2 separate regions of the Homo sapiens genome follow, and region 2 is linked to region 1. Evidence: fine-mapped expression QTL. A gene starts in region 1. The other region holds a variant in brackets. All regions are shown on one strand. Distances are between the middles of the regions.

Evidence for each region. PIP is the estimated chance that this variant, and not a neighbour inherited with it, causes the effect.
Region 2: its variant is fine-mapped to the expression of FBXO33 in whole blood (INTERVAL, PIP above 0.99).

The regions. Positions count from the first base shown.
Region 1 is chr14:39,427,561-39,439,130 of GRCh38, reverse strand. It overlaps FBXO33 (F-box protein 33), which reads left to right and starts at 6,698. Exons shown (of 4, transcript NM_203301.4): 1 at 6,698-7,567. The coding sequence starts at 6,969. LOC105370461 (a long non-coding RNA gene) reads right to left here and starts at 6,692. Exons shown (of 8, transcript XR_007064121.1): 1 at 6,612-6,692. RefSeq lists silencers at 6,100-6,269, 7,010-7,139, 7,580-7,709 and an enhancer at 6,660-6,909.
Region 2 is chr14:39,582,030-39,593,599 of GRCh38, reverse strand. The region is part of intron 2 of LOC105370461 (a long non-coding RNA gene); the gene reads right to left. Among named protein-coding and RNA genes, the nearest start is that of FBXO33, 160 kb to the right of the region's middle. RefSeq lists an enhancer at 3,627-4,216. The variant C/T (reference allele first, on the strand shown) is at 6,281.

The sequences.
Region 1 (11,570 bases):
AAATGACTTTGGTAAAGTTTCAGGATACAAAATCAATGTACAAAAATCAGTAGCATTTCTATACACCAATAATGTTGAAGCTGAGAACCAAATCAAGAACATGATCCCATTTACAATAGCCACACACACACACACAAACCTAGGGATATATATAACTAAGGAGGTGAAAGATCTCTACAAAAAGGACTACAAAACACTGCTGAAAAAAAATTATAAATGACACAAACAAATGGAAAAACATTCAATGCACAGGGACTGGAAAAATCAATATTGTTAAACTGGCCATATTGCCCAAAGCAATGTACAGATTCAACACTATTCTTAACAAACTACCAATGTCATTTTTCACAGAATTGGAAAAAACTATTCCAAAATTCATATGGAACCAAAAAAAGAGTCTGAATAGTGAAAGCAATCCTAAGCAAAAAGAACAGAGCCAGAGGCATCACATTACCTGATTTCAAACTGTACTATAAGGCTATAGTAACCAAAACAACATAGTAGTGATATAAAAACAGACAGCATAGACCAATGAACAGAATAGAGAACCCAGAAACAAAGCCACACTCCTACAGCCTTCTAATCCTTGACAAAGTTGACAAAAATAAGCAATGGAGAAACGGCTCCTTATTCAATAAATGGTGCTGGGGTAGCTAGCTAGCCATATGCAAAAGAATTAAACTGGACCCCTACCTTTCACCATATAAAAAGATTAACTCAAGATGGATGAAAGATTTCAATGTAAGACCTCAAACTACAAGAATCCTAGAAGAAAACCTAGGAAACACCATTCTGGACATCAGCCTTGGGAAATAATTTATGCCTAAATTATCAAAAGCAATTGCAACAAAAACAAAATTTGACGAGTGGGACCTAGTTAAACTAAAGACCTTCTGCCCAGCAAAAGAAACTATCAACAGAGTAAATAGACAACCTACAAAATGGGAGAAAATATTTGCAAACTACACCACAAACAAAGGTCTAATATCCAGAATCTAAAAGAGCTTAAACCACTGAACAAGCGAAAAACAAATAACCCCATTAAACAATGGGCAAGACATGAATAGACACTTTCCTAAATAAGACACATAAGCAGCCAACAAACATATGAAAAAAATATTCCACATCACTAACCGTCAGAGAAATTCAAATCTGAACCACGAGATACCATCTGACACCAGTCAGAATGGCTGTTATTTAAAAAGTCAAAAAATAACAGATGTTGGCAAGGCTGCAGAGAAAAGGGAACACTTATACACTCTGGTGGAAATGTAAATTAGTTCAGCCACTGTGGAAAGCAGTTTGGAGATTTCCCAAAGAACTTAGAAGTACTATTCGATCCAGCAACCCCGCTGCTGGATATATATCCAAAAGAAAACAAATCATCCTACCAAAAAGACATACATGCTCGCATGTTCACCACAATACTATTCATAATAGCAAAGACATGGAATCAACCTAGATGACCATCATATGAACTGGATAAAGAAAATGTGGTACATATATACCATGGTATACTATACAGCCATTAAAAATAAGAAAAATCATGTCCTTTGCAGCAACATGGATGCAGCTGAAGGCCATTATCCTAAGTGAATTAATGCAGGAACAGAAAACCAAATACCGATGTTCTCACGTGTGAGAGCTGAACACTGGGTACTCATGGATATAAACATGGCAACAACAGACACTGGGGACTACTGGTGGGGAGGGGGAGGGAAGAGAGCAAGGTATGGGGGAAAAAAAGAAAAATGAATTAAATGAAATAAAATTACCTAATGAATCTAACATCAAAATTGTTAAAAATGTTTCTGGGAGTAGGCCTGACAATGGGAGGCAAGAGATGAAAATCTGTTGCTTTTCATCAACAGTACTTTTGTACTACATTTTTTTGTTACCATGGTCATGTATTACTCTTAAGAAAAAAAATGTAATGAATTTCTACTAGAAATTTCTTGCTAAAGGGTTAGATTTTAGAGATATGAGAATCTTCCTACATAAACTGAATACTATGGAAGAAATTCCATAACCTTCAAGTGAATGAAAAATTTGTTTTATTTTCCTTGTGGTATGAAAGTATGACTCCCCTTTTAATATTCAATATAAATGAAGAACTGATTCACATTCCCAGATAATTCAGTTACGAGTTGATTCATCTATAGATGTCAAAATTTACTTAATACGTTGTAGCTATATTATAAAAATTCCTAATTTGAAATAATTTATAAAACTTATTTAAGTGATCTGTTGCTATTCATAAAATAAGGAATTAGCATGAATACAATTCACTAAAGAATGTATCTGCACAGTGCAACAAATGTAGAAAACAAACACTAATATATAGTCACATTAGACAATAATTACCTAAACAGGTCACCAATTCTTTCCAACTATGGCAGACATCACAAATCAAATGATACTCCTTCCAGTAGAATGAGGACAACCTCAAAATCTTTCTTAACATAGTACTTCTCAGCCTGCAAAACTAATTAAAATTGGCACATCAAGTGAAACCCCTTTGGCCTAGAGCAAGACAACATTCCAATTAATGCTACTATATGAAAATATTCACTTCATTTCTCCTTTTCAGCACCTAATGGGCTAAAAAGATTTTCCAAAGGATTAAATATTAAATTCTGCAATGAGAATATTGCAGTAATTAGCCATGAATAATATATTTCTTCATGACAAAGTCTTAAGATTACTCAGCCAGTATGACCTGGAAAAGCTTGATGAAGATTCCAAGAAACTGTGGTACTCAGAGATGAAGAGAGTAACCTTAGCTCCTGCTTTTAGTTTTCCATTCCGGTCCCTACACATCAAAGGATACCTGTGGATGTCCTCAAAACTCCAGGAAGAGGAGGAAGAGGGCCAGAGGGAAGGAGAAAAGAAAATCCTCTCAGTGCTTAAGCTAGTTAGGTTAAACAACCAAAGGAACCCAATTAAAATGACTACTTTGGAGACTGTGCCTCTTAAGTAACAGTCCCGTGAGCCCCGTTGGGGGATCCTGCCTATAATCTAAGCTGCACAACTCCAACGAGGATCATTAGTCAATTACTGATTTTAACTAGAAGTCAAGGAATTTTATTGGTTGAACCAGCTGTGTTAAACATAACACTTAGTTTTTAATATGTACTTAAGCAATAAAGGGTACCTCTGAAAACACCCATCCTCTTAAATAAAAGGGAAGAAATCAGTAATGCAATAAAACAGGCATTCAAGTTAAACCTTTTGAATTCATTTTTTAACTAAATGGGATAGATAGGGAAAAAAATAGCTCTGGAAGTGGACTTAAAATGCGGGGATTAGCTAGTAGGCCTAGCTACAGAGACAAAATATGGCCTTGGCCCACAGTTTTGAGAACTTTGGTAAAGAATTTGAAATCTGGTGCCCTGAAGACTAAATCTGGTTTTGTTATGCCCACAGAATATTTTTAATGTAAATAAATTGGCAATCTGAAGGTTTAACCTTTTTAAAAATGAGGATTTTAGTTACTTTTGAAAAACTAGGAAATCTGGAAACACAGAGCCCACTTTCCCACTTGCGAAAAGCATCCTCCTGTAAGACAAAATCTTTCCATCTCCCTATATTGCACAGTACCCAATTCTTCTCTCACTACACGTATCTGATTCCTTTGATATATGAACTATCAATCCCTGCTTTATGGAGAGAGGTCTTGCACAATCAACTCATGAGTGGCTTGGTTAGAAAAAGTTGTGATATCAGCGACATGCTACACCTAGACTGACAAACCAATGACGCGGTCCTCTGTCATGTAGCTCACCAACGCAGACTTCCTCCTCTAAAGATGAATTCCCTTCAATCCCTCATTTCTTTTTACTGTAATATGATTCCACTAGGAAACACTTCAATCCACCAGACAAGGGTGACGGGAATGAGGTACCCAGATCTACTGTCGCAGGAGGTTCCTGTGCCTCTAGGTAAATTTATGGGTGCATGCTAAGAGATAATTGGAAGGGTATTATGTCACCTCTACCTGTCAACAATGTCTGAAACCCAGACATCACTCAGAAAACTGTATTTTTTCAAGAAATATTAGAATTTAGGCAATTTTCATGTTTACTGGTAGCCTTGAACATCGTTTCATGATGCAGCTAAAATAAAATCTGTCATGGTTACTTTTTTCTATTATAAAATTGCAAGTGATTCAGTATAATAAAAGTTATATTTAACCCAAAGAAAGTTGCCAAACTTAAGCAAAAATGGAAAGAAAGCTATAGTAAGATATATTTAATACCCCAATTACCTAACTAGGAAAAACACTAAACTTAGCATGTTAGAAAAGGAGAAATATAAAAATATTAAGTGCTTAATTTATCTCTAAAAGAATTAACCATGAGTATAACAAGAAAAACAGAACAGACCATTGACTATCAACAGGCAGGCATATCAATCCACCAGAGCAGATACCTACCTTAATATTATAGTCCTATCCACCATTCGTTGCCTGGGTTTCAAATCCAAATAAGCATGGTGGTTGCTATAGTGACAATATGCCACTTTTGGAACCTGGAGCTTAGTACTACTAGGTACTTATGAGCTTCATAACGTCAGTACTTCCTCCCACACTCTGAATCATAGCTCAGATTTTATAACTTCACAAAATGTAATTCCATTCTGTCCTATATGAGTCAATTTTATTTTAGCAGTATAGAATATATGTCAAAAGAATCTAACTCACTTAACATGCTAAATATACATACTCAATATACATTTAATTAATAGTAAATATATTGGCCTGATAAGATAAATTTTGTGCAACCATTGGAATTCACTGATTTATTATTGAAACTGGGCAAGATTCACAGCTAATTCTTTAGCTTACAGTTGTTAAAATAGGATTCCTACCACACTTCATTTAAGAAGAAAGTTTGAAATTCTAAAATAATGAATTTCATTTATGGCAGACTGACATATTTTCATTTTACTCAGGAACCATTCCTAATAATTAAAGACTAATTATTAATGATCTCCAAGATGGTAGCTTGTTGCTAGCAAAATGCTAAGAAAAAAATATCAATCTCAAATTACAGTGCATTTCTAGAATATTAAAAAAAAAAAAGTCAGAGAACTGGAAACCCTCATACATGGCTGGTGGGAATGAAAAATGATGCAGCCACTTTGGAAAAAGTTTCCGTTTCTCAAAAAGTTATACATAGAACTACCCTACGACCCATCACTTTCATTCCTAGGTATCTACCCAAGACAAATTAAAACATACGTCCACATAAAGACTTGCACATGAATGTTCACAGCATTATTCATAACTCGAAACGACCTAAATGTCTGTAAACTGGTAAATGGGTAGTGTTTCATCCTGCCGAACCCACGACTGGGGTCGCCCTCTAAGAGTTCATTAAAATTAATAAGGTATAATTACCTAAAACTCTTGTAAACAGGGGCTCGAATAAGTAACCTATCACAATTGATAAACCACACCATGTTGTTGGCAACCTGATATGTGCAAGGCATTAAACGGAGAGCTTTGCCCTCAAAGGGTTAAGAACATCTAGAATGGGGGTCTCCTCTTTCGTCTTGGGAGCCCCCTCCGTCTGTCTCTGTAGTGGGGAGCTTCTTCCTTCAGCCTTCTTCCTTCTTTCTTGCCTATTAAATTCTCCGCTCCTTAAAACCAAAAAAAAAAAAAAAAGTCCAAAAAGTCTTGGTGTTTACCACAAAAGAACGATGCTATTCCAACATCACAGCCTCCCTAAAGCAACTCTCAATTATTACATAAAGAGGCAGCCTCCCTAAAGCAACCCTCGATTATTACATAAAGTCACTTAATCTTTTCTGACTTCACCACTCTTTGCAACCAGAGTTTACTTTGCAGTAGGCTGTGGTGAAGTTAGGGACATGGTTTGGAAAATCTAAGTTAGGGATACCAGGCAAAAAAAGAAGAAGAAGAAAGAAAAAAAATCAAAGCTCTGTCATTACTGTGAACTTTTCAACGAGAGCCTTAAATCTCAGCACAGGGAAAAGAGACCCTTCCTCAAGCCCTGGAGAAGAGGCTGGTCACAACCTGCGGATCTCAGATCCCTTTGCCAATTTTTTTCTCTCCCTCTGAATCCAAAGGGTGACGCTGTCCTCACTGCTTCCCCACACACCAGCGAGTGCGCGGAAGTCCACCTGCGTGGTTGGACCGAGGGGGCAGGTCCATTCGCGGCCTCCGCCACGCCCCACACCGCCCCTCCCGGCACAGCCCGCCGGGGTTAGCCCGCCCGTCCGCCAGCTCCCTCTCAGCGGCGCAATCTCAGGAATTCTTAACCCTACTCTGGGCAGGTGGGATGGCTGAGAAAGACCCTGCATGCCGCCACTTTGGCTCAGGGTCCTCAGCCCAAACTGAGAAACGTTTTACAAAGAAGCGTGACGACCTTTCGCACTAAACCAGAGTACCGCCACCTCCATCGACCGAGCGCCAAAATTAACCGACTTACAGATGTGACTGGGCGCAGCGGCCACCGTAAGGCGTAAGGGGTGCCAAGTGCCGGTTCCAGTCCCGCCCAGCCCCGCCCCGCCCCGCCCCGCCCAGCCCCGCCCCGCCCCGCGGCCTGCGTGCGTCAGAGATCACGTGCCGCGCCTCCCGTCCCTACAGGCAATCGGGCGCTCCCCTCTTCCGGAAGTCGCGCCGGTGCGCGCCGGACTCCTCCCACCAGCGGCGACGTCAAACTCAGCTCCTACCACTTCTCTGTCTCTGCCGACCGGCGCAGGGAGGGCTGCCTTTTCCTTACAGTACGCCTTGAGGCTTCCGGGCCGCTGAAGTTTACGAGCGAGGGCAGTGCAGTTACTCAGTGTGCCGGCCTCGGACGCACGTGAGTAGAGTTTGAGAAGACAGAGGCTGGCTCCCGGCAGGCCACGCCCGCAGAGGCCTTTCCCCCTCTCCACAACTTGTGTTCTACTTGGTTCCGCCGAGACCCACGACGGTTCCGCCCCCTTCTTCCTAGTCATTGATGTTGTTGTTCTTGTCAGTGCCGCAGCCCCGACCGCCGGGAGCTCGAACCCGAGCCGGGGCCGCCCGGGTGGCGCGGTGGCGGCGGCTGCGGCTGCAGCAGCTGCGACGGCTGCGGGGGCTGCTCCGGGTACTGCGGGGGCGGCCGGGAGCCGGCAGCCGGCGGCGGGGCCGGATGGCTCTGTGCGGGCAGGCGGCGGGCGCTGCGTCGCTGCCCAGCGAGCTGATCGTGCACATCTTCTCTTTTCTGCCGGCGCCCGACCGGCTGCGGGCCTCGGCCTCCTGCTCGCACTGGCGTGAGTGCCTCTTCTATCCGGCCCTGTGGCCCCAGCTCCGCATCTGCCTCCGCGTCTCGCCCGCGGAGCAGCCTCGGCTGGAATTCCTCATGCGCAAGTGCGGCTGGTTCGTGCGAGAGCTGCGTGTTGAATTCGCCGCCGAGAACTATCTGAGCGGCGGTGGCCCAGGGGACGGAGGTGGCGCGGACACCGGGACTGGAGGGGAGGAAGTCGAGGCCCTGCAGCTCTCAGCTCGTTGGCTGGAAGTGCTGCGCACCTACTTGGAGCTGGTGCTTTGCGTGCTGGTCAGCATCCGGAACAACAGGTAGGCTTGCCCTGAGCCCCGCCCCGCCCGGTAACGGGGGGTCGCTCCGTCCCCGCACCCCGACACAGATTCTGTGCATAATACGTGCCCGGCCAACTTCAGTGTTGCCTTCCTCAGTGACGGAGAGTGTTGGTTCTAACTAGGCGGTTTCCTTGAGCGGAAAGGCATAACGGGACTCATCACGATACTTTATAAACAGTGGTGGACGGGGTGTTTAACAGACACCACTTCTGGCGCCTTCCAGGCACTCATTCATCCTCTTGGTGGCCGTGGGATGGAGCTGACAGGCGCTGTCACTTTTCATTTTATATATGGGAGCGTTAAGACTGGGAGGGTGAGGCCTGTGGGTGAGCCTTGGAAGAAACAAAACATACACATAACACGATTTTCTGACTCTGAATCTGTTAGAAATAGTTCATGGTGAGGGAAGGAGTAGGTACTCATAGGACGCTGCCTAAAAGAAATTTTGTAACAGCCATTTTCTTACCAGAAATAGTTTCGGCTAACTGAACAAGGCCCGAAGAGGAGGAGGAGTGTTTGTTAAAGGGATTGGGGAAGAAGTTGATCTTCAGGGTTGAAAGTCCCTCCCCATACACCACCACACTCAACTTCTCCCCAGTAGTTCACCTAAAAGTAACAGTCGGGCGGAGGAGGCGGGCGGGCAGCGAGGGAGTTGGCCAGGGTCTGCAGAGGGTAAGCACATAACTGTTCTGGTTTTGCATCAGGACTTCACTGTAATTCCAGAACTAACGCCTTATATTCTGACCCAGTATCCCTCCCAATCATCATTTTTCTCCATCGCCACCTCCAAAACCCTATTAATTTAGATCTTCTTTATATGGATATTCTAAAGAACCTTACAGTAAAGCTCTTATTAGAAGAAAGTTTAGACGTTCACAAAAGGAGCACCTTACATAGTAAAAATACTTCAGCAGTTTCACATTCACTGTGTTGTTTGAGCCTCTCAGTGGCACTATGAGGCAGGGTAATGATAAATAACCCTGTTTTACAGAAAGGAAACTGACCCTTTATAGGATCAAGTGATTTGCACATTGCTGTACGGCATTGTTTTTCTCCGAAAGCGTGTCCTTTTGCAGTAAATATACTGAACATTATGTTGAACAAGGTTGAGAGCAGTCCCTGGTTTAATGCTAGGAGATATATATAGATATAAGGTTATATATATATATGTATGCGCCATTAATCTGTGTCTTAATTTAGAAGTCAAGAGATAAGTTATAGCTCCAAGTTGTATCTGGGATATGGCTCCATTATTCCAGTTGCCTGTGCGTTTCCACAGCTTTTCGCAAGACATTCTATTTCCTTACTTTGGTTTTATCTGGCAGGAGAGGCCATTGAAGCTAAAAACAGATTAGGTTAGAGACTTTCTCAGAGTTGAATGTATGGCTAGAGGACCAACTGACCCAAAAGTTGCAAAGTTTCAGTCAGTGAGCACTTACTAATGAGACCAAGGTTGAGGGTGAATTCAATGAGTGAGTACCAATTAGATTTTTCTGTACTGAGATCAAATTGCACTTTTATGCAACCATGCAAACACTGTATGTGCCTTTGACCCAAGTAAGAACAAGACTTGATAAGTGTCTAGTTCCTTTTAAGTATTTTAATAACTGGTTGGTTGGATGGGTGGATAACATACAGGCAAAATGGAGATATTTCACATCTTTGCTTTGTAGCTTAATTCTCCTGTCCTTCTCTTCCTTACCCCTACAATTTTTATTAGCATCCCAATCTGCTTCTCTATAAGGCCACCGATGCCTGCCCTTCTGGGTCAGCTATCACTTCTATGCAAAAACATCACACCCGTCATCCCTAATTTTAAGGTTTGCTTGTCATCTACTATTAGCATGGTGTTGTATGTCATGCTGCTTTGGTAGCATATTCATTCTGTTTGTCTCAAAATGTAGTGTAATTGCATGTTGTTTGTACTAATGATACATCAAAGGGTTTTTGGAAATAAGTTAATCTCATCTTTACTGTTGAAAGTGTTTTGAGATACTCTGTGATATTGGAAAAGTTAATATGAATATTAAATCCATAAATAAGACTAGTTTCCTTTAAATTTTAACAAATCTGAAAATGTTTTAAACCACATTGTTTATCAGTGACTAGTAAAGCCTATTATTTCTTTCTATAATCACTTAAACTATAGACTTGGGACATTTGACATTGCTCTTTACATTTCCAAGTTAAATTTACAATGGTTTTGCTTTATGATTTCTGCCATTCTATAAGTAGAAAAGAGGGGGTGTGAATCATACCAGATCATAAGCATTCTGCTTCCAGGCTTTGTGCTGAATTCCTTTATACAGTTCATACAATTCAGACTGTTATTTTGTTTTGTTCCAGTTATTTTCATGTCCCTCAGGAAAATAATTAAAAGTATAAACTTGAATTGTGTGAACTTTTCAAGGGTGCTGATCTTCAGAGAGGACAATTGGCATTTTGTTTTGCTTGGTTCCTGGGTTATATATATACATGTATTCTCATAGTGATTATAGTTGCCATACCTGTATCTTAGGTTTTAGGAACAACTAATAAGGATAAAGAAGGTGCATAAGTGCCTCTCTGAGGGTAACACACAGTCCTTCACGTTTCAGAAATTCCTTCTCTACAGGGCACTAGGATACCTGTCTTCTTCATTAATAGTAAGAACAGAGGGGCAGTAAGTACTCATTCAACTGTATTTTAGGTCACATAGGCTGAATTTCTCTGCAGTCGTTCTATAAGAAATTGTACCTAGAAGTGCAAACAACAAATAGATATAAATGCATTTTTAGCATTTAATCCAGTTGTCAGGTTGGGTACTGCCTATTAAAATGCTGTATTTCAGACTCCTTAGGAAAAACGAGAGCTCATGGTAAGATTTATGATAATAGGTAATAGACTCAGTCACTAAAAATACCTGAAGAGTAGCCATAGGCACATTGTCTTCATCTGGTTTATGCTTCTATGGGCTGTATAAATGTTTTACATAAGCTTTTCTTGGGTGGAATGCTGTTAGGGGCAGTACTTTTTTGTTGTTGTTGAGAATTCATATCGTTGGCCAGGGGTGGTGGCTCACACCTGTAATGACAGCACTTTCTGGGAGGCCGAGACGGGTGGATCACTTGAGGTCAGGAGTTCGAGACCAGCCTGGTCAATATGGCAAAACCCCATCTCTTTTAAAATACATAGCCGGGTGTGGCAGTGCATGCCTGTAATCCCAGCTACTCAGGAGGCTGAGGCAGTAGAATCGCTTGAAGTCAGGAGGCAGAGGTTGCAGTGAATAGAGATCGTGCTACTGCACTCCATCCTGGGTGACAGAGCCAGACTCCGTCTCAAAAAAAAATTTAAAAAAAAAGAATGCATATTGTAACAGACCAGAGAAATTTTGTACAAGATTGATTTTCTTTTTAAGATTCTGGGTACAGCTCTAACTGCTTGTATGTAGATTGACCATTTCATGACTGTGTCTGCTTATATATCCTGTAAGTTAAAAAGGATCTATTAATAATACTTAGATTTGGGTCTTGTTGATTTGGCATGCACAGTGAAGGAGAATCTTACCTTTGTATTGTTTCCTACCAAGAAACAATAATAAAGACATTTAAAAATATTTTGAGACAGAGTCTTGCTCTGTGACTCAGGATGGAGCAATCATGATCATAGCTCACTGCAGCCTCAAATTCCTGGGCTCAAATGATCCTCCCACCCCAGCCTCCCTAGTAGCTAGGACTACAGGCATGCACCACCATGCCTGGCTGATATATATATTTTTTTAATTTTGTGTAAAGACAGGATCTCACTGTGTTGCCCAGGCTGGTCTCTAATACCTGGCCTCATATGATTCTCCCATTTCTGCCTCCTAAGGTGCTGGGATTACAGGTGTGATCCCCTGCACCCTGCCTAAAAATGCATTTTAAAATGGGTTAAAAATTCCCTGGACATTTCAGATTACTACCTAAGATGGTAGAAAATGCCTTGAAGGTATTATCTCCAACAG
Region 2 (11,570 bases), 150 kb before region 1:
AACACAGTAAATCTATGATGACTAACTGACCTAACTTATGACCTATAAAAATCATTTTTCTTCCAAGACAACTAATGTAGTCATAGCCACCACTGTGCCAAACATACAGCTTGATAAATCAATTTAGCCTAAACCAGTACATGGTCCAAACATAATATGGCTTTAAATAACTTTGAAAAATATTTCTAGCGTCTCGAGAGAATTTGCATATTTTTAGATGAGATTTGCATTGCATCTTAAAAATACTTCATTAATTCAACAAATAACTACTGAGTTCTTGGTACATGTACAACACTGTGGAAGGTATTAGCAGGCATAAATAAAAAAGCTCTGCCCCTGAGGCATTTACTACGAAAAACAAAATTTACAGAGTTAGAATCTAATATTTATTACTTGCTCCTGATTGCATGTATTTAGCCTAATTACATAATTAGATGCAATCATGCTGAAAACAAAAGAGAGACTGAATTTTATTTTAAGAAAGCTCTCTTGAGACACAAGATGAGAAAAAAATCAGTAAGTAAGCCAAATGCCAGGAACCAAAAATTCAATCTAAACTATCAATACCAAAAAAGACCACAAAAGGCCAACCGTAAAAGCTTGTGTCTGAGGGTAAAATGAAGAGGTCATCATAGACTATATAGAAAGAAACTGTAGTGTGTGAAGTACTGTGAAACTTTATGTATGGAAAAAAACCTGAAAGATCATCTAATACAAGTCCATGATTTTATGAATTTAAATAATTAATATACTGGACACTTTGTTAATTAGTTTCTAAGGAGACTCTGATCCCTGTCACACAACTAAGCATTTGCTTTCTCCACCATATATGCCAAAAAATTCACATTTTAAAAGCCTTAACATATTACACCTTCTCTTTACAGTGTCTGAACTCCCTTAATTCTAAATACAGAGAACATAACAAAAGACATACTCAAATTACCAATGTGCTGGCCAGTGAGATGCCACATCATTGCCATAGTGGGAAGGGTCATGGTGCAAAGCTCAGCCCTCTGGCTGATTCAGTGCAACCCTTCCCTCCCATCCAGTTTCCTACACCCTATTCTAGAAGGTAGAAATAGTATAACCCTTGGCATGTCTCACACACTGAAGTCATTTTCTCAGGCACTTGAACTGGGCCCTGTAACAGTGCCAACCATCCCTAGCAAATCTGGGAGTAGGGCCTGGATGCTACAACTCAATGCTCTCTGCTTCCTGCTTCTGCAACATCTTCAAAGCCCTCCAGCCCCGCACCTGTTCTGCTGTCTCTGTGTTAGTGAGCTTTTCCATAAGGCAGAATCCTTTCTGTTTCTTTACTTTTAGCTGCCTGGGAAACGTCCTTCTCCAATTACCATGAGTTGTTGGAACAGACAGCATCCTGCTGCTGCCTTGAGACACTGGAATGGTTCTTTTGTTACAGACAGCACTGATTCTTAAAATGAAGATTTCTGCCTTCTTTAGCCTCTCCTCATATTTCAGCCTCCTCTCCCTGCCTCACCCAGCCCCCGAATAATACATCCCATCAGCCTAAATCCTTGTCCTTGGAAAAATCAGGCTATTCCTCTCACTATTTGCATCCGCCTCCTCACTCAGCCTGTTTAACCTCAGTCTCGTGTTTCTCTTCAATTTTTATCAAATAGTTATTCACACTTGGCATTACAGAGGATAGGTAAAAAGCAAAATAAATAAAAATATTCTCCACACTCTTACATGGTTATTAACACTTTTAGTGAAGTTTGACCACATCCAAAACCCTCATTCCCACCCACCAAAAGGCACAATAATATCATAGGTGTTTTATATATTAGTAGGAACATTTTAATATTATAATTTCATAACACTCCCAAAGTGTTGCAAAATAACAAGGGAGAACCACTGTTTTAGAACTTTGGTTAAAGGCAGATAATGGCATGTATTACTACTAATGTTTATTACATACATAAATTATACTATGTAAGAAATTTGAACCAGTGAATTCCAAGTCTGACTTCTAGTTGCCTATTCTCCAATGTTGACCTTATGATGCTTGATAAACTAGATACATTTTCCAGCCTGAGACTAGATTACAAGAAAAGCATCAATCCAAAATATTATCGTACTGGGGCTATTACATCACGTGGTCCCTGATCCAGAGGCCCAATTCAAACTATGCATTGAGAAAAAGATTCTCTGGCTCTGAGAGCCTGGAATTATCCTGTGGAGGTCATCTCTTCCATCCTGCTCTCCTCTGCCAACTCTAAATGGGAAAACCAAACCTCCCCTCAAAGACTGGCAATGCAAATGCCAAAGGTACAGACTCTGTGCCCACACGACTTGGGTTGTAGTCTCAACTCTGCCCCTTCCTAACTGTGGTACATCAGGCCACTTAGGAGGCCAGCTGTAGGACTCTCCATTTCTTCATGTTCTCATCCTCAAAACAGGAATAATAATAGTACCCACCTAAATTGTTGTAAAAAATATATACATTGTTATATATAAATCATTAAAGTATTTAGTAAATTGTAAATGTTCAGTTAATTTCTTGGAAACATAAATATTGTGGTAGGAAGTGATTTTGGGAAATATTCTCACATGTTAGTGGTTTCCTCACCTCACAAACATTCAGAACTTGGTAGTGACTTCACCTCCAGTAGTTCCGAACTGCTACAAAAATACTAAGAGTATGGATTATTGTTGAGGAAGTTTTTTACAAGTGAGACTGTATCATAGACAACAATGTACACATGTATGAACCTACATGATCATTTCATTTCTACAGGCTAAGATAATAGCAGACAGAATATTAGCTAAAATTGTAAAGGAGTTGGGAGGCTATGATAGTAACCAAAAATGTATCATACATAGTTCTATGAAGCACTAGTCAAGGCTAGAGAAGCAGAGCAGAGAAGGCTGGACACCACAGGACCCACTCTGGCTGGAGAGTCTGACAGCTGGGATCCGTAATCTAAACTTATGACTATTTATTTCCATGTCATAAATTTACCTTTTAACATGAATAAAAGCTGTAAGCAAGCCATGCCAAAATGCAACAAGGGTAAAGTTCACTTTCTACCTTGGTATTTCATGAGAAGTACCTCCACCGTCCACTCAAAAAGTCAGTGGAGAGCAGGTTAACTCAAAAATCCCATCTTAGCCTCCATTGTTTTCATGTCTAGGTCCACAGATGAAAAGTGAGAACATTAAAACTGGTGGTTCAACTTTGCTAGCCTGGTTGGTAAAAGGGTAAGGATAGTCAGAGAGTTACTATTAAAGGAAAGTTAGCAAGCCTCTAAAATTCAAATCCAATACAAACTTTAAAACAATTTTTAGGAGGAGCCAAGATGGCCGAATAGGAACAGCTCCGGTATACAGCTCCCAGCGTGAGCAAGGCAGAAGACGGGTGATTTCTGCATTTCCATCTGAGGTACCGGGTTCATCTCACTAGGGAGTGCCAGACAGTGGGAGCAGGTCAGTGGGTGTGCGCATCGTGCACCAGCCAAAGCAGGGCGAGGCATTGCCTCGATCGGGAAGCGCAAGGGGTCAGGGAGTTCCCTTTCCTAGTCAAAGAAAGGGGTGACAGACAGCACCTGGAAGATCCGGTCACTCCCACCCGAATACTGCGCTTTTCTGACGGGCTTAAAAAACGGCGCATCAGGAGATCCTGTCCCGCACCTGGCTCGGAGGGTCCTACGCCCACGGAGTCTCCCTGATTGCTAGCACAGCAGTCTGAGATCAAACTGCAAGGCGGCAGCGAGGCTGGGGGAGGGGCGCCCGCCATTGCCCAGGCTTGCTTAGGTAAACAAAGCAGCCAGGAAGCTCCAACTGGGTGGAGCCCACCACAGCTCAAGGAGGCCTGCCTGCCTCTGTAGGCTCCACCTCTGGGGGCAGGGCACAGACAAACAAAAAGACAGCAGTAACCTCTGCAGACTTAAGGGTCCCTGTCTGACAGCTTTGAAGAGAGCAGTGGTTCTCCCACCATGCAGCTGGAGATCTGAGAACGGGCAGACTGCCTCCTCAAGTGGGTCCCTGACCCCTGACCCCGAGCAGCCTAACTGGGAGGCACCCCCTAGCAGGGGCAGACTGACACCTCACATGGCCGGGTACTCCAACAGACCTGCAGCTGAGGGTCCTGTCTGTTAGAAGGAAAACTAACAACCAGAAAGGACATCCCCACCAAAAACCCATCTGTACATCACCAGCATCAAAGACCAAAAGTAGATAAAACCACAAAGATGGGGAAAAAACAGAGCAGAAAAACTGGAACTCTAAAAAGCAGAGCGCCTCTCCTCCTCCAAAGGAACGCAGTTCCTCACCAGCAACGGAACAAAGCTGGACAGAGAATGACTTTGACGAGCTGAGAGAAGAAGGCTTCAGACAAATTACTCCAAGCTACGGGAGGACACTCAAACCAAAGGCAAAGAAGTTGAAAACTTTGAAAAAAATTTAGAAGAATGTATAACTAGAATAACCAATACAGAGAAGTGCTTAAAGGAGCTGATGGAGCTGAAAGCCAAGGCTCGAGAACTACGTGAAGAATGCAGAAGCCTCAGGAGCCGATGCGATCAACTGGAAGAAAGGGTATCAGCGATGGAAGATGAAATGAATGAAATGAAGCGAGAAGGGAAGTTTAGAGAAAAAAGAATAAAAAGAAACAAGTAAAGCCTCCAAGAAATATGGGACTATGTGAAAAGACCAAATCTACGTCTGATTAGTGTACCTGAAAGTGACGGGGAGAATGGAACCAAGTTGGAAAACACTCTGCAGGATATTATCCAGGAGAACTTCCCCATTCTAGCAAGGCAGGACAACATTCAGATTCAGGAAATACAGAGAACGCCACAAAGATACTCCTCGAGAAGAGCAACTCCAAGACACATAATTGTCAGATTCACCAAAATTGAAATGAAGGAAAAAACGTTAAGGGCAGCCAGAGAGAAAGGTCGGGTTACCCTCAAAGGGAAGCCTGTCAGACTAACAGCGGATGTCTGGGCAGAAACTCTACAAGCCAGAAGAGAGTGCGGGCCAATATTCAACATTCTTAAAGAAAAGAATTTTCAACCCAGAATTTCATATCCAGCCAAACTAAGCTTCAGAAGTGAAGGAGAAATAAAATACTTTACAGACAAGCAAATGCTGAGAGATTTTGTCACCACCAGGCCTGCCCTAAAAGAGCTCCCGAAGGAAGCGCTAAACATGGAAAGGAACAACCGGTACCAGCCGCTGCAAAATCATGCCAAAATGTAAAGACCATCGAGACTAGGAAGAAACTGTATCAACTAACGAGCAAAATAACCAGCTAACATCATAATGACAGGATCAAATTCACACATAACAATACTAACTTTAAATGTAAATGGACTAAATGCTCCAATTAAAAGACACAGACTGGCAAATTGGATAAAGAGTCAAGACCCATCAGTGTGCTGTATTCAGGAAACCCATCTCACGTGCAGAGACATACATAAGCTCAAAATAAAGGGATGGAGGAAGATCTACCAAGCAAATGGAAAACCAAAAAAGGCAGGGGTTGCAATCCTAGTCTCTGATAAAACAGACTTTAAACCAACAAAGATCAAAAGAGACAAAGAAGGCCATTACATAATGGTAAAGCGATCAATTCAACAAGAAGAACTAACTATCCTAAATATATATGCACCCAATACAGGAGCACCCAGATTCATAAAACAAGTCCTGAGTGACCTACAAAGAGACTTAGACTCCCACACATTAATAATGGGAGACTTTAACACCCCACTGTCAACATTAGACAGATCAACGAGACAGAAAGTTAACAAGGATACCCAGGAATTGAACTCAGCTCTGCACCAAGCAGACCTAATAGACATCTACAGAACTCTCCACCCCAAATCAACAGAATATACATATTTTTCAGCACCACACCACACCTATTCCAAAATTGACCACATATCTGGAAGTAAAGCTCTCCTCAGCAAACGTAAAATAACAGAAATTATAACAAACTATCTCTCAGACCACAGTGCAATCAAACTAGAACTCAGGATTAAGAATCTCACTCAAAACTACTCAACTACATGGAAACTGAACAACCTGCTTCTGAATGACTACTGGGTACATAATGAAATGAAGGCAGAAATAAAGATGTTCTTTGAAACCAACAAGAACAAAGACACAACATACCAGAATCTCTGGGACGCATTCAAAGCAGTATGTAGAAGGAAATTTATAGCACTAAATGCCCACAAGACAAAGCAGGAAAGATCCAAAATTGACACCCTAACATCACAATTAAAAGAACTAGAAAAGCAAGAGCAAACACATT[C/T]AAAAGCTAGCAGAAGGCAAGAAATAACTAAAATCAGAGCAGAACTGAAGGAAATAGAGACACAAAAAACCCTTCAAAAAAATTAATGAATCCAGGAGCCAGGAGCTGCTTCTTTGAAAGGATCAACAAAATTGATAGACCGCTAGCAAGACTAATAAAGAAAAAAAGAGAGAAGAATCAAATAGATGCAATAAAAAATGATAAAGGGGATATCACCACCGATCCCACCGAAATACAAACTACCATCAGAAAATACTACAAACACCTCTATGCAAATAAACTAGAAAATCTAGAAGAAATGGATAAATTCTTCAACACATACACTCTCCCAAGACTAAACCAGGAAGAAGTTGAATCTCTGAATAGACCAATAACAGGAGCTGAAATTGTGGCAATAATCAATAGCTTACCAACCAAAAAGAGTCCAGGACCAAATGGATTCACAGCCGAATTCTACCAGAGGTACAAGGAGGAACTGGTACCATTCCTTCTGAAACTATTCCAATCAATAGAAAAAGAGGGAATCCTCCCTAACTCATTTTATGAGGCCAGCATCATCCTGATACCAAAGCCGGGCAGAGACACAACCAAAAGAGAGAATTTTAGACCAATATCCTTGATGAACATTGATGCAAAAATCCTCAATAAAATACTGGCAAACAGAATCCAGCAGCATATCAAAAAGCTTATCCACCATGATCAAGTGGGCTTCATCCCTGGGATGCAAGGCTGGTTCAATATACGCAAATCAATAAATGTAATCCAGCATATAAACAGAACCAAAGACAAAAACCACACGATTATTTCAATAGATGCAGAAAAGGCCTTTGACAAAATTCAACAACCCTTCATGCTAAAAACTCTCAATAAATTAGGTATTGATGGGACGTATTTCAAAATAATAAGAGCTATCTATGACAAACCCACAGCCAATATCATACTGAATGGACAAAAACTGGAAGCATTCCCTTTGAAAACTGGCACAAGACAGGGATGCCCTCTCTCACCACTCCTATTCAACATAGTGTTGGAAGTTCTGGCCAGGGCAATTAGGCAGGAGAATGAAATAAAGGGTATTCAATTAGGAAAAGAGGAAGTCAAATTGTCCCTGTTTGCAGATGACATGATTGTAAATCTATAAAACCCCATTGTCTCAGCCCAAAATCTCCTTAAGTTGATAAGCAACTTCATCAAAGTCTCAGTATACAAAATCAATGTACAAAAATCACAAGCATTCTTATACACCAACAACAGACAAACAGAGAGCCAAATCATGAGTGAACTCCCATTCACAATTGCTTCAAAGAGAATAAAATACCTAGGAATCCAACTTACAAGGGATGTGAAGGACCTCTTCAAGGAGAACTACAAACCACTGCTCAAGGAAATAAAAGAGGATACAAACAAATGGAAGAACATTCCATGCTCACGGGTAGAAAGAATCAATATCGTGAAAATGGCCATACTGCCCAAGGTAATTTATAGATTCAATGCCATCCCCATCAAGCTACCAATGACTTTCTTCACAGAATTGGAAAAAACTACTTTAAAGTTCATATGGAACCAAAAAAGAGCCCGCATCGCCAAGTCAATCCTAAACCAAAAGAACAAAGATGGAGGCATCACGCTACCTGACTTCAAACTATACTACAAGGCTACAGTGACCAAAACAGCATGGTACTGGTACCAAAACAGAGATATAGATCAATGGAACAGAAGAGAGCCCTCAGAAATAACGCCGCATATCTACAATTATCTGATCTTTGACAAACCTGAGAAAAACAAGCAATGGGGAAAGGATTCCCTATTTAATAAATAGTGCTGGGAAAACTGGCTAGCCATATGTAGAAAGCTGAAACTGGATCCCTTCCTTACACCTTATACAAAAATCAATTCAAGATGGATTAAAGACTTAAACATTAGACCTAAAACCATAAAAACCCTAGAAGAAAACCTAGGCATTACCATTCAGGACATAGGCATGGGCAAAGACTGCATGTCTAAAACACGAAAAGCAATGGCAACAAAAGCCAAAATTGACAAATGGGATCTAATTAAACTAAAGAGCTTCTGCACAGCAAAGGAAACTACCATCAGAGTGAACAGGCAACCTACAAAATGGGAGAAAATTTTTGCAACCTACTCATCTGACAAAGGGCTAATATCCAGAATCTACAATGAACTCAAACAAATTTACAAGAAAAAAACAACCCCATCAAAAAGTGGGCAAAGGACATGAACAGACACTTCTCAAAAGAAGACATTTATGTAGCCAAAAAACATGAAAAAATGCTCACCATCACTGGCCATCAGAGAAATGCAAATCAAAACCACAATGAGATACCATCTCACACCAGTTAGAATGGCAATCATTAAAAAGTCAGGAAACAACAGGTGCTGGAGAGGATGTGGAGAAATAGGAACACTTTTACACTGTTGGTGGGACTGTAAACTAGTTCAACCATTGTGGAAGTCAGTGTGGCGATTCCTCAGGGATCTAGAACTAGAAATACCATTTGACCCAGCCATCCCATTACTGGGGATATACCCAAAGGACTATAAATCACGCTGCTATAAAGACACATGTACATGTATGTTTATTGCGGCACTATTCACAATAGCAAAGACTTGGAACAAACCCAAATGTCCAACAATGATAGACTGGATTAAGAAAATGTGGCACATATACACCATGGAATACTATGCAGCCATAAAAAATGATGAGTTCATGTCCTTTGTAGGGACATGGATGAAATTGGAAAACATCATTCTCAGTAAACTATTGCAAGAACAAAAAACCAAACACAGCATATTCTCACTCATAAGTGGGAACTGAACAATGAGAACACATGGACACAGGAAGGGGAACATCACACTCTGGGGACTGTTGTGGCTTGAGGTGAGGGGGGAGGGATAGCATTGGGAGATATACCTAATGCTAGATGACGAGTTAGTGGGTGCAGTGCACCAGTATGGCGCATGTATACATATGTAACTAACCTGCACATTGTGCACATGTACCCTAAAACTTAAAGTATAATAATAAATAAATAAATAAATAAATAAATAACAATTTTTAAAGATTGCAAGTAAATAACTACTGTTACAAATAGTAAGTTCGTTATTTAAATACTGCTTCTAACTATGAAGACCACAAATTCTATCTTTTTATAATCCCAGAATCAACAAAACACCTTTTACTTACTAGGCCATTGAGAAACATTTGCTATTAGTGGTTACAATGATATATATATCAATAATTTATGGTACACCTTACACATATATTGGTGTTTAAATTTATCAAGTGTAATCTTCACAACAATCCCAAAAAATATAGGTAGCATTATTCTCGCTTTTATAAGAAATTTTCACTAATGAGAAGTTGAATTTCCTAACCAAGATGACGTGAATTAAAAGTGAAGTCCAAGTTTCAAACCACATCTATACTGAAGATGCAATGTGTTCAAAAAATAACATGCTGGGACAGGCTGCAGAAACATGTCTCTGAGCACTAAAGTTCCTACTAGTGAATAAAATACTCTTTTTCTAAATTCCTCTTCAGAACACTTACTTAGTTAAATAATATATAAATCAAACACAGAAAACCATATGCCAATTCACCAGTGATAAAAATTATTTATTCCAGCAATTCTAAATATATTCCTTAGAGCAGTGGTCCCCAACCTTTTTGGCACCAGGAACCATTTTCGTGGAAGACAATTTTTCCATGGACAGTGGGGATGTGGGGCAAAGCTGGAGGGATGATTTCAGGATAAAACTGTTCCACCTCAGATCATCAGGCATTAGAGTTTCATAAGGAGTGTGCAACCTAGATCCCTTGCACGTGCAGTTCACAACAGGGTAGCCCTCCTATGAGAATTGAACGCTGCTGATCTGACAGGAGGCAGAGCTCAGGCAGTAATGCTCCCTTGCTCATCCACTGCTCACCTCCTGCTATACGGCCCAGTTCCTAGCAGGTCACAGACCAGTACTGGTCCCAGGGGTTGGGGACCCCTGCCTTAGTGTTCATAGGCAGTGCTCACACATGGATAACAGAAAACATGTTTGGACAGCCCATCTCCTTCCTCTCCCTGACTCCTGTGTCATTACTTCCATTAATATTTTCAGTAAGCAATCAAGATAACAAAATCCAAAATAGAAGCTAGTTTTTATCATTTATTGTAACAGTTACAACATATACACAGTCACAGGCTTATCTTCAAATGTAAAGATTAATGTCATTAAATTCCTTGAATTGTTTTTCAGTTATAACAGATTTCAAGTAATTTTCACTACTGTCCTATGATTATAAAAATCCTAATTCCCCAGTAAGTGCTTAATATATATTTTCATTTTAGTTCTAAAAGTAATCATCTGTAATACATTTTTATAGAAGCATAGAACATATACTGATGAGGTTTTTGTAAGAGAAATAAGCAATCCTAAGTACGCCTTTCAGTACTTCCTATTGAATAATAGAATTTTATCTATGAAAAGCACATTAGGAACATTTTACCCAAGTTCCTTATTTTATAGATTTAAAAAAAAAAACAGGCTTACTATGTTTAAGAATATAACAGTAAAGTTGTAGTCTTTTGAATTAAAAATGACAATAGAATTAGATTTTATGAAAAAGAAATCTTTAGAAACTCTCATTGTATTATTACTAGTTCTTGCTGAATTTTTTTCCACATTAAAACCAAGGTTGCCTCATTTCATTCTCATGAAATAATGGAGCCCCACTGAAACTGAAAAACTGTCCAAGTTATTCTTCCTACAGAAATGTGTGCATGTGTGTCACATACTTAGCTGTGTACTATGAAGTTTAAAGTTTGTGATAAAAAGGAAGTTGATTTTAGAAATGCACACTGTTGTAGTGCCTTTACAAAGGTACTGCACACCAGCCTGGGTGACAGAGAGAGAGACCCTGTCTTTGAGAAAAGAAAAGAAGAAGAGAAAAGAAATAAAAACACAGAAGTTAGAATCAACAGGATCTGGTAAATGATTAGATAGGAAGATGAGAAATTGAGGTTTGTGCATCCTACACAGCAGCTTGAAGAGGAAACACTGTAATTGAAAGCTAGAGTTGAACTGATCAAGGAGAGAAAATGAAACGGGGGGGGTGAATAGTGTTTTGGAAGTTGATGTGGAACGTGTTTCTCAGGTTCTACATAAAACTGGCTGGTTGTGTTCACATGGTAAAAAAAATCTCTTAGATCATCATCACAGAGAAGATTTGGTGATATGTATTTCAGTATTCACAATAAAGAGAACAAATGATATGACTGGT